Linked DNA regions of Homo sapiens. The protein of the gene in region 1 purifies or fractionates together with the protein of each later gene. This does not show direct contact. Each region holds a gene or a part of one and is shown in the gene's direction. Other genes may lie near its edges.

Region 1 (3,584 bases):
GGCCACTGGAGGGCGCGACAAGATGGTGAAGGTCTGGGACATGACCACGCACCGTGCCAAGGAGATGCACTGTGTGCAGACCATCGCCTCGGTGGCCCGTGTGAAGTGGCGGCCAGAGTGCCGCCACCACCTGGCCACGTGCTCCATGATGGTGGACCACAACATCTATGTTTGGGACGTGCGCCGGCCCTTCGTGCCAGCTGCCATGTTTGAGGAACACCGAGACGTCACCACGGGAATTGCCTGGCGCCACCCCCACGACCCCTCCTTCCTGCTGTCTGGCTCCAAGGACAGCTCGCTGTGCCAGCACCTGTTCCGCGACGCCAGCCAGCCCGTCGAGCGCGCCAACCCTGAGGGCCTCTGCTACGGCCTCTTCGGGGACCTGGCCTTCGCCGCCAAGGAGAGCCTCGTGGCTGCCGAGTCGGGGCGCAAGCCCTACACTGGCGACCGGCGCCACCCCATCTTCTTTAAGCGCAAGCTGGACCCTGCCGAGCCCTTCGCAGGCCTCGCCTCCAGTGCCCTCAGTGTCTTTGAGACGGAGCCAGGTGGCGGCGGCATGCGCTGGTTTGTGGACACAGCTGAGCGTTATGCGCTGGCTGGCCGGCCACTGGCCGAGCTCTGTGACCACAACGCAAAGGTGGCTCGAGAGCTTGGCCGCAACCAGGTAGGTAGGTGCTGAGCCTGGGGGTCCCTGGGCCACGACCTCAGGGCAGGGGCTGGTTCCTCCGTCAGCTGCGCTCACCCCACCTCAAGCTCCGCAATGGACTCCAGCCAGTCGCACCAACAGGCCTTGCCTTGGTAGCTGAGGGTGTCAGGATCACACAGGGCCAGGGCTCCAGGGTGGGCCAGACCCAGGACTGTCCTCTGAGGGGCGGGGGTCTCGGGAGTCGTGTGGCTCAAGCTCTCTGTTCTTCCCCCCTTGCTTCTGGAGCTCTCCAGGCACCAGCAGCGGTGGAGCCGTGAGCTGCCGTTCCCATGCCCATCTCTAGCTGCCCCGCAAGTCCCCACTGCCCAATTCTGTTTTCCTCTGTGCTGCTGTAGGGCGGGGACCGGGGTTTTTGTCTTTCCCATGAGCCTCAGCTTTCCTACCTGGGGTGGGCCTGGACATTGGGTACTGAGGGCAGCTGAATGCTGAGGGCTTGTGACTGTCCAGGCAGAGAGGGACCTGCATGGGGTGCTGGGTGTCCAGGACGCCCACAAGTGACCAGTGCCCGCCCCTAGGTGGCGCAAACGTGGACCATGCTGCGGATCATCTACTGCAGCCCTGGCCTAGTGCCCACTGCAAACCTCAACCACAGTGTGGGCAAGGGTGGCTCCTGTGGCCTCCCGCTCATGAACAGGTAGATGCCGGGGGCAGCTCTCCCCAGGGGCTGGGGCTGCTCGAGCCCACCCACCCATGGGCCCTTCCTGCCCCCAGTTTCAACCTGAAGGATATGGCCCCAGGGTTGGGCAGTGAGACGCGGCTGGACCGCAGCAAAGGAGATGCACGGAGCGACACAGTTCTGCTCGACTCCTCGGCCACACTCATCACCAATGAGGGTAGGCTGGGGTGGGTAGGGGTGCTGATGGGAGAGGGGTGGGGGTGTCCCAGACGACCCTGAATGCCCGCCCCATTGTCGGGCAGATAACGAGGAAACCGAGGGCAGCGACGTACCTGCCGACTACCTGCTGGGTGACGTGGAAGGTGAGGAGGACGAGCTGTACCTGCTGGATCCGGAACACGCGCACCGTGAGTGGGGGTCCGGGCAGGGTGGGGTTCAGAGGCGGATGGAGGACAGACTCAGAGCCTCCGCTGGTCCCTGCCTTCCAGCCGAGGACCCTGAGTGCGTGCTGCCGCAGGAGGCCTTTCCGCTGCGCCACGAGATCGTGGACACGCCTCCCGGGCCCGAGCACCTGCAGGACAAGGCCGACTCCCCGCACGTGAGCGGCAGCGAGGCGGATGTGGCCTCCCTGGCCCCCGTGGACTCCTCCTTCTCGCTCCTGTCTGTCTCACACGCGCTCTACGACAGCCGCCTGCCGCCCGACTTCTTCGGCGTGCTGGTGCGCGACATGCTGCACTTCTACGCTGAGCAGGGCGACGTGCAGATGGCTGTGTCTGTGCTCATCGTCCTGGGTGAACGGGTGCGCAAGGACATCGACGAGCAGACCCAGGTGTGTGGTGGGCGGGGCCTCCCCCCTGCAGCGCCGCCCCTGGCACCCAGATCCTGACTGCCGGGCGCTCCCTCCCCCAGGAGCACTGGTACACTTCCTACATCGACCTGCTGCAGCGCTTCCGCCTCTGGAACGTGTCCAACGAGGTGGTCAAGCTGAGCACCAGCCGCGCCGTCAGCTGCCTCAACCAGGCCTCCACCACCCTGCACGTCAACTGCAGCCACTGCAAGCGGCCCATGAGCAGCCGGGGCTGGGTCTGCGACAGGTGGGGCAGTGGGGTCGGGAGGTGGGGCAGGGGCCTGCAGGCAGCGCAGCAGCCCCCGCTGAGGCACCCTCCCTCCCGCCCGCCCCCAGGTGCCACCGCTGCGCCAGCATGTGTGCCGTCTGCCACCACGTAGTCAAGGGTCTCTTCGTGTGGTGCCAGGGCTGCAGCCACGGCGGCCACCTGCAGCACATCATGAAGTGGCTGGAAGGCAGCTCCCACTGTCCCGCAGGCTGCGGCCACCTCTGCGAGTACTCCTGACGGGGCATCTGCTGGGCTTGCCCGGGCGGCCGCGTGCAGAACCCCGCCTGGTCTTGTGCCCGAGACGGGCGGAGGCTGGAACTTGAGACCTCAATAAAGGAAGTAGAGCCGCTGTCGGCACTGCGTGTCACCCCATAGCGCGGCGGGCTCGCCGTAGGCCCGCGGGGCAGCTGGCGGGCGGGGGCTTTCGGCGGGGTTGTCGCCATGGTAACCGGCGGCGCCCATAGTCGCTCTCGGGGCGGCCTTCCCAGTGCCTCCCGTAGAGGCCTCTTCCGGGGCGGGCCAAAGGAGGTCACTTCCGGGGTCCGTCCCGGTTCCCGGCCGTTGCCACGACGACGAAGCTGCCGGCCAATGGCTGGCGGATGGGCCCAAGGTTCCCGGCGTGCAGCGCGGCTGCCTGAGGGCGGCAGGCTCATGGCGCCGGCGTCGCGGTTGCTCGCGCTCTGGGCGCTGGCGGCTGTGGCTCTACCCGGCTCCGGGGCGGAGGGCGACGGCGGGTGGTGAGCGGCCCGGGAGGGGCCGGGCGGTGGGGTCACGTGCGGCGGGCGGGGCGCGGGCTGACCCAGCTGTGCCCGCAGGCGCCCGGGCGGGCCGGGGGCCGTGGCGGAGGAGGAGCGCTGCACGGTGGAGCGTCGGGCCGACCTCACCTACGCGGAGTTCGTGCAGCAGTACGTGCGCCCCTGATCGCGGAGGTCGCGTCCTGTTCACCGGCCCGTCTGCCCCGACCGCCCAAGGCCGCCTTCCCCTGACCTCGCGCGCACGCGTGGGGCTGGGGCGGCGAGGCTGGCGGTCCGGCCTGGCCGCGACTCTGCCCTTCTTTCCAGGTACGCCTTCGTCAGGCCCGTCATCCTGCAGGGACTCACGGACAACTCGGTGAGCGCGTGCCCGTCCGTCCCCGGCCACTCTCGCC
Region 2 (3,907 bases), on another chromosome or scaffold:
CATGAGTTAATTTACCAGTGATATCTTTGGTTCTAGGTGTCAGTAATTAACACTGTGGATACCTCCCATGAGGACATGATTGTAAGTATTAATATCACCCTCCCTGGAGGGGTGTGGACATGGGCATTTTTGTGGGAGGGAAGCAATTTGGGGTTTTCATTACCCCTTTCTGTTGATCATTCATGGATCCAGGGTGGCTTTGCAGTGGTTGCCTATCAGCCTGTAATCTCGGGGTATGGCAGGCTCCCTAGCAGTGCCCTCTGAGTTGTCAGGACTGTGGCAGTCTAATCACTCTCTGCTGGGAGGAACCTGGGAATAATTTGTAGTTCTAGGCTGTCAGTCTTCCAGCCAATACAATAACCTGCTCTCGGATGAAGGCTGAGTGGGTACGGAGGCTTGACAATAGTCTTCCCACCTGTCTTCCTCCTGCTGTCACTTCTTAGCCCCACTGGAAAGGGGGGTGAAAAGAAGAGAGTGTAGAAAGATGACTCAATACAAAGGCAGAGGGCAGCCACAGTGAAAGCCCCAGGCAGAGCCCAGTCAAACCACCAAGACAATAGGCCAGACAAGGCCCTTTGAACCAGAAGTCCACACTCAGGGCATTTCCTGAGAGGTAAACACAAGGCTCAGTATAAGAGGACAGGGCTGCAGGAGAAGGTCCAGAGGTTAAAGTCTACCGCAGGAAAAACACAGACTCTGCTTCATTCAGGGCCAAGCAGCCTTTGAGCAAGACCCAGGACAGCTGGCTGACAGTGTTTCATGTCAGGGTTCTTGCCCTCACAACCTGTCCACCAACAGTTGCTTTTGGGTTTCTGAGAGGTTGTCTGGTCCCAGAGTTGTATATGTTCTCTGGATTCAGTCATGAGTGGTCTAGCTGTAAGACCACACCTCCTTGGAGATAGCATGGAATCATGGGCAGGAAGACCCAGTCTGAGACTCCCTAGCCAATATCTTAACTTTTCTGAGCCAGCCTCAATTTACTTACGGGAAAAATAATGGATATGCTACCTACTCGTATGAGTTTGGTTTGAGAACTAGATGAGGCCAAGTAGTAATGACAAACATTTGCATGCTCACTGAGTGTCAGGCCCCATGCTAAGTACTTTTCTTTTTTTTTTTTTTTTTTTTTGAGATGGAGTTTCGCTCTTGTAGCCCAGGCTGGCATGCAGTGGCGTGATCTCAGCTCACCGCAACCTACGCCTCCCGGGTTCAAGTAATTCTCCTGCCCCAGACTCCCGAGTAGCTGGGATTACAGGCGTGCGCCACCACTCCCAGCTAATTTTGTATTTTTAGTAGAGGCAAGTTTTCTCCATGTTGGTCAGGCTAGTCTCGAACTCCCGACCTCAGGTGATCCGCCCGCCTCAGCTTCCCAAAGTGCTGGGATTACAGGCGTGAGTTTTCATTCAATATCTTGTTTAACCTTCATAACAACTGTTGAGACAGATGCTATCTTTAGCCTTATTTAAAGATAAGGGAACTAAGGCCCATAGGATGTTGGTAAATAATAAAGATAAGGAAACTGAAGCTCAAGGAGATGAAGTGTTTTCAAAGTTTGCACAGCAGGTAAACTAAGGAGATAGGATTTAGATCTGAAAGGTACTATGTCCTGCCTCCTTCCACTGAGAAGCATGAGAAGTGCTTCAGAAACACTCCTCTACTGCCTGCCCTCCAAGAAACCAAGGCCTGATACAGTGGAGGGAGTTCCCAAAGAAAAATCAGGATGTGTTCCTTGCGTAGGGAGGTGAGAATTCCCATCTGAGCCAGACAGAATGAGTGCCTTTGAATGGGCATAATTGCCCCTGGTGGCCATGGGAGTGCAGCTGATAGTCCTGAAACTCCCAGGGTGGGACAGCTGGGGAAAGGGACATCCATTGGAATAGGCAGGGCCAGCAAGCAGAAGGGACCAGGGTGTTCAGTGGTGCAGGAGGCATGGTGCCTCAGAGACCATCACCCTGCGGACAAGGATCTGCAGGTAGGGGCCAGGCCTAGTTCTGCATGCTCAGTCAGCATCAAGGAATTCGGTTCACAAGTGGTGAGAGCAGCGACACTTAAGGCATTGTGTTCCTTGGGTGGAAAGTCTGGGAAGCTCTGGGCACACTACTAGGGAAAAGGTCGAGCAGAAGCCCCAAAACAAAGGTCCACAAAGGATCCAGGGCCAGGGCTGGAAAGAGCCCAAATATCTGAATGGAACCCTGTGTGCAGGCCAGAGCTGCATCACAGAAGACCTGACTGGGGACTCCAGGCAGTCAGAGGCCCACTCCTTTGGCCTGCTCCCATGCATTAGCATCAGGTGCTAGGGCTGAGCTGAACCCAGGGGTATTCCCCTTTAGCCCACAGAGCCTAAGAACTGAATAGGGCCTGAGAGGATGGAGGAAGAAGAGGGCAGCTAGGCCAACTTTTTTTCTCCCATACCCACCCTGCGGAACAGGAATGGAAGAGCCCTTCCCTGAGGTATGTAAAGGGTCTGTGACACCAGCTGGGCATGGCTTGCTTTGTCCATTTCAGAGAGACACTGCCCATAGGTGAAGTGAGAATGTCCACATGCTAGCTTCCTGCCTGAGGGTGATGATACTTTGAGATCAGATTGATTTCAGGGAGATTCTGGTCCAAACTAGACTCTGTGTAGTGACAGCCCTCACCCCACCCACCCACCCACCCAGCCTGCAGGCTTCCCGAGCTGTCCTCCCTTTGCAGCACGACGCCCAGATGGACTACTATGGCACCCGCCTGGCAACCTGCTCATCAGACAGGTCCGTCAAAATCTTTGATGTGCGCAATGGAGGGCAGATCCTTATCGCCGACCTCAGGGGGTAAGTGCTGGCGAGCCCAGGGAAGGGCTCCAGGAATGGTGTGGGTTCTCAGGCCCTGCTTCAAGCGTGGGAGCAAAGCATGGGAGCCCAGATTCAGAGCAACCCCAAAGCACATTTAGCGGAGAGGACGCTGGGATCCCAGCCAGCCTGGCTGTCCTCAGCGGACGTCCCCAGGGATGATGCTGTTAAGGGCACAGGTGGATACAGGTGTGAATCTCAGCTCTGCCACTTTATGTGTACCCACCAGAAGACCTTGGGCAAGTGACTCAGTTTCTCTCTCAGAGCCTTCATCTGCTCATCCTCAAAATTGGGCCAATGCTACCTCCTATCCAGCTAGTGTATGCAAGGCCCTGACACAGGGCCCAGGACACAGTAAGTCTTTAGTGCAGGCAGCTACTGCTACTTTTAAAAGTGGTAAACAGTACCATTTCGTTCAAGTTTAGCCAGTATGACCTAAAGTGTCACAAAAGCATCACCGTAAGAATAATGTAAGAATGCTATCATTTTATAAATCCCATTGTTCTGCCTATATGCCCGTGGCACGTGTTCAGTGATTATTTACAAATGTTTGACCTGCCCTGCTCCCTACTGAGATTCTTGAGGAAGTCCTGGCTCATTTTTATGGCCACATCTCTACTGCTTTCCCTCAGCTCACTGCCTTTCACGTATTTGTGGGTTTGCCTGGGTGCCGTGGATCTCCAAGGGTTCTGTGAATAGAGTTCAGGGGTTGATGAATTGGGACAGGGGGAAAAAAATGCATTTTCAGTGACTCTGATATTTAGCATTTCCTTCAATTATGGATGTAGGCCAGAAACTTCAGTAGTATTTGTAGTGCCTGTCACTTTGTCACCAGTAGAATTCACAGATATTGTCATCACACATCACGGTTACTTAGCTACCTCAAAATACCACTTATGCTCATCACAACTTTGAAATTACAGTGGTTATTAGACCTGCCGCTAGGGTTTGTTGCTTGAAGTGTTAACAAAGAAGTACATGCATCACTATCTCATAAATTGCTTTATAATATTTTGATAACAGGCTGGGCAAGGTGGCTCACGCCTGTAATCCTTAACACTTTGGGAGGCTGAGGTGGG

What was found.
Region 2: the proteins of WDR24 (region 1) and SEC13 purify together in Homo sapiens (affinity purification with mass spectrometry; 7 studies listed by BioGRID and IntAct, with this or other methods). This does not show direct contact.

Annotation. Positions count from the first base shown.
Region 1 is NC_000016.10:683,824-687,407, reverse strand, and holds the end of WDR24 (GATOR2 complex protein WDR24), read left to right. Parts: coding exon 1-664; intron 665-1,221; coding exon 1,222-1,340; intron 1,341-1,417; coding exon 1,418-1,539; intron 1,540-1,624; coding exon 1,625-1,729; intron 1,730-1,810; coding exon 1,811-2,151; intron 2,152-2,231; coding exon 2,232-2,416; intron 2,417-2,505; coding exon 2,506-2,674; 3' UTR 2,675-2,786; downstream 2,787-3,584. Other genes in the region: JMJD8 (jmjC domain-containing protein 8 isoform 1 precursor), read left to right, coding at 3,089-3,174, 3,253-3,342, 3,499-3,547. UniProt on the Homo sapiens protein: Catalytic component of the GATOR2 complex, a multiprotein complex that acts as an activator of the amino acid-sensing branch of the mTORC1 signaling pathway. The GATOR2 complex indirectly activates mTORC1 through the inhibition of the GATOR1 subcomplex.
Region 2 is NC_000003.12:10,314,224-10,318,130, reverse strand, and holds part of SEC13 (protein SEC13 homolog), read left to right. Parts: intron 1-36; coding exon 37-81; intron 82-2,694; coding exon 2,695-2,810; intron 2,811-3,907. UniProt on the Homo sapiens protein: Functions as a component of the nuclear pore complex (NPC) and the COPII coat. At the endoplasmic reticulum, SEC13 is involved in the biogenesis of COPII-coated vesicles.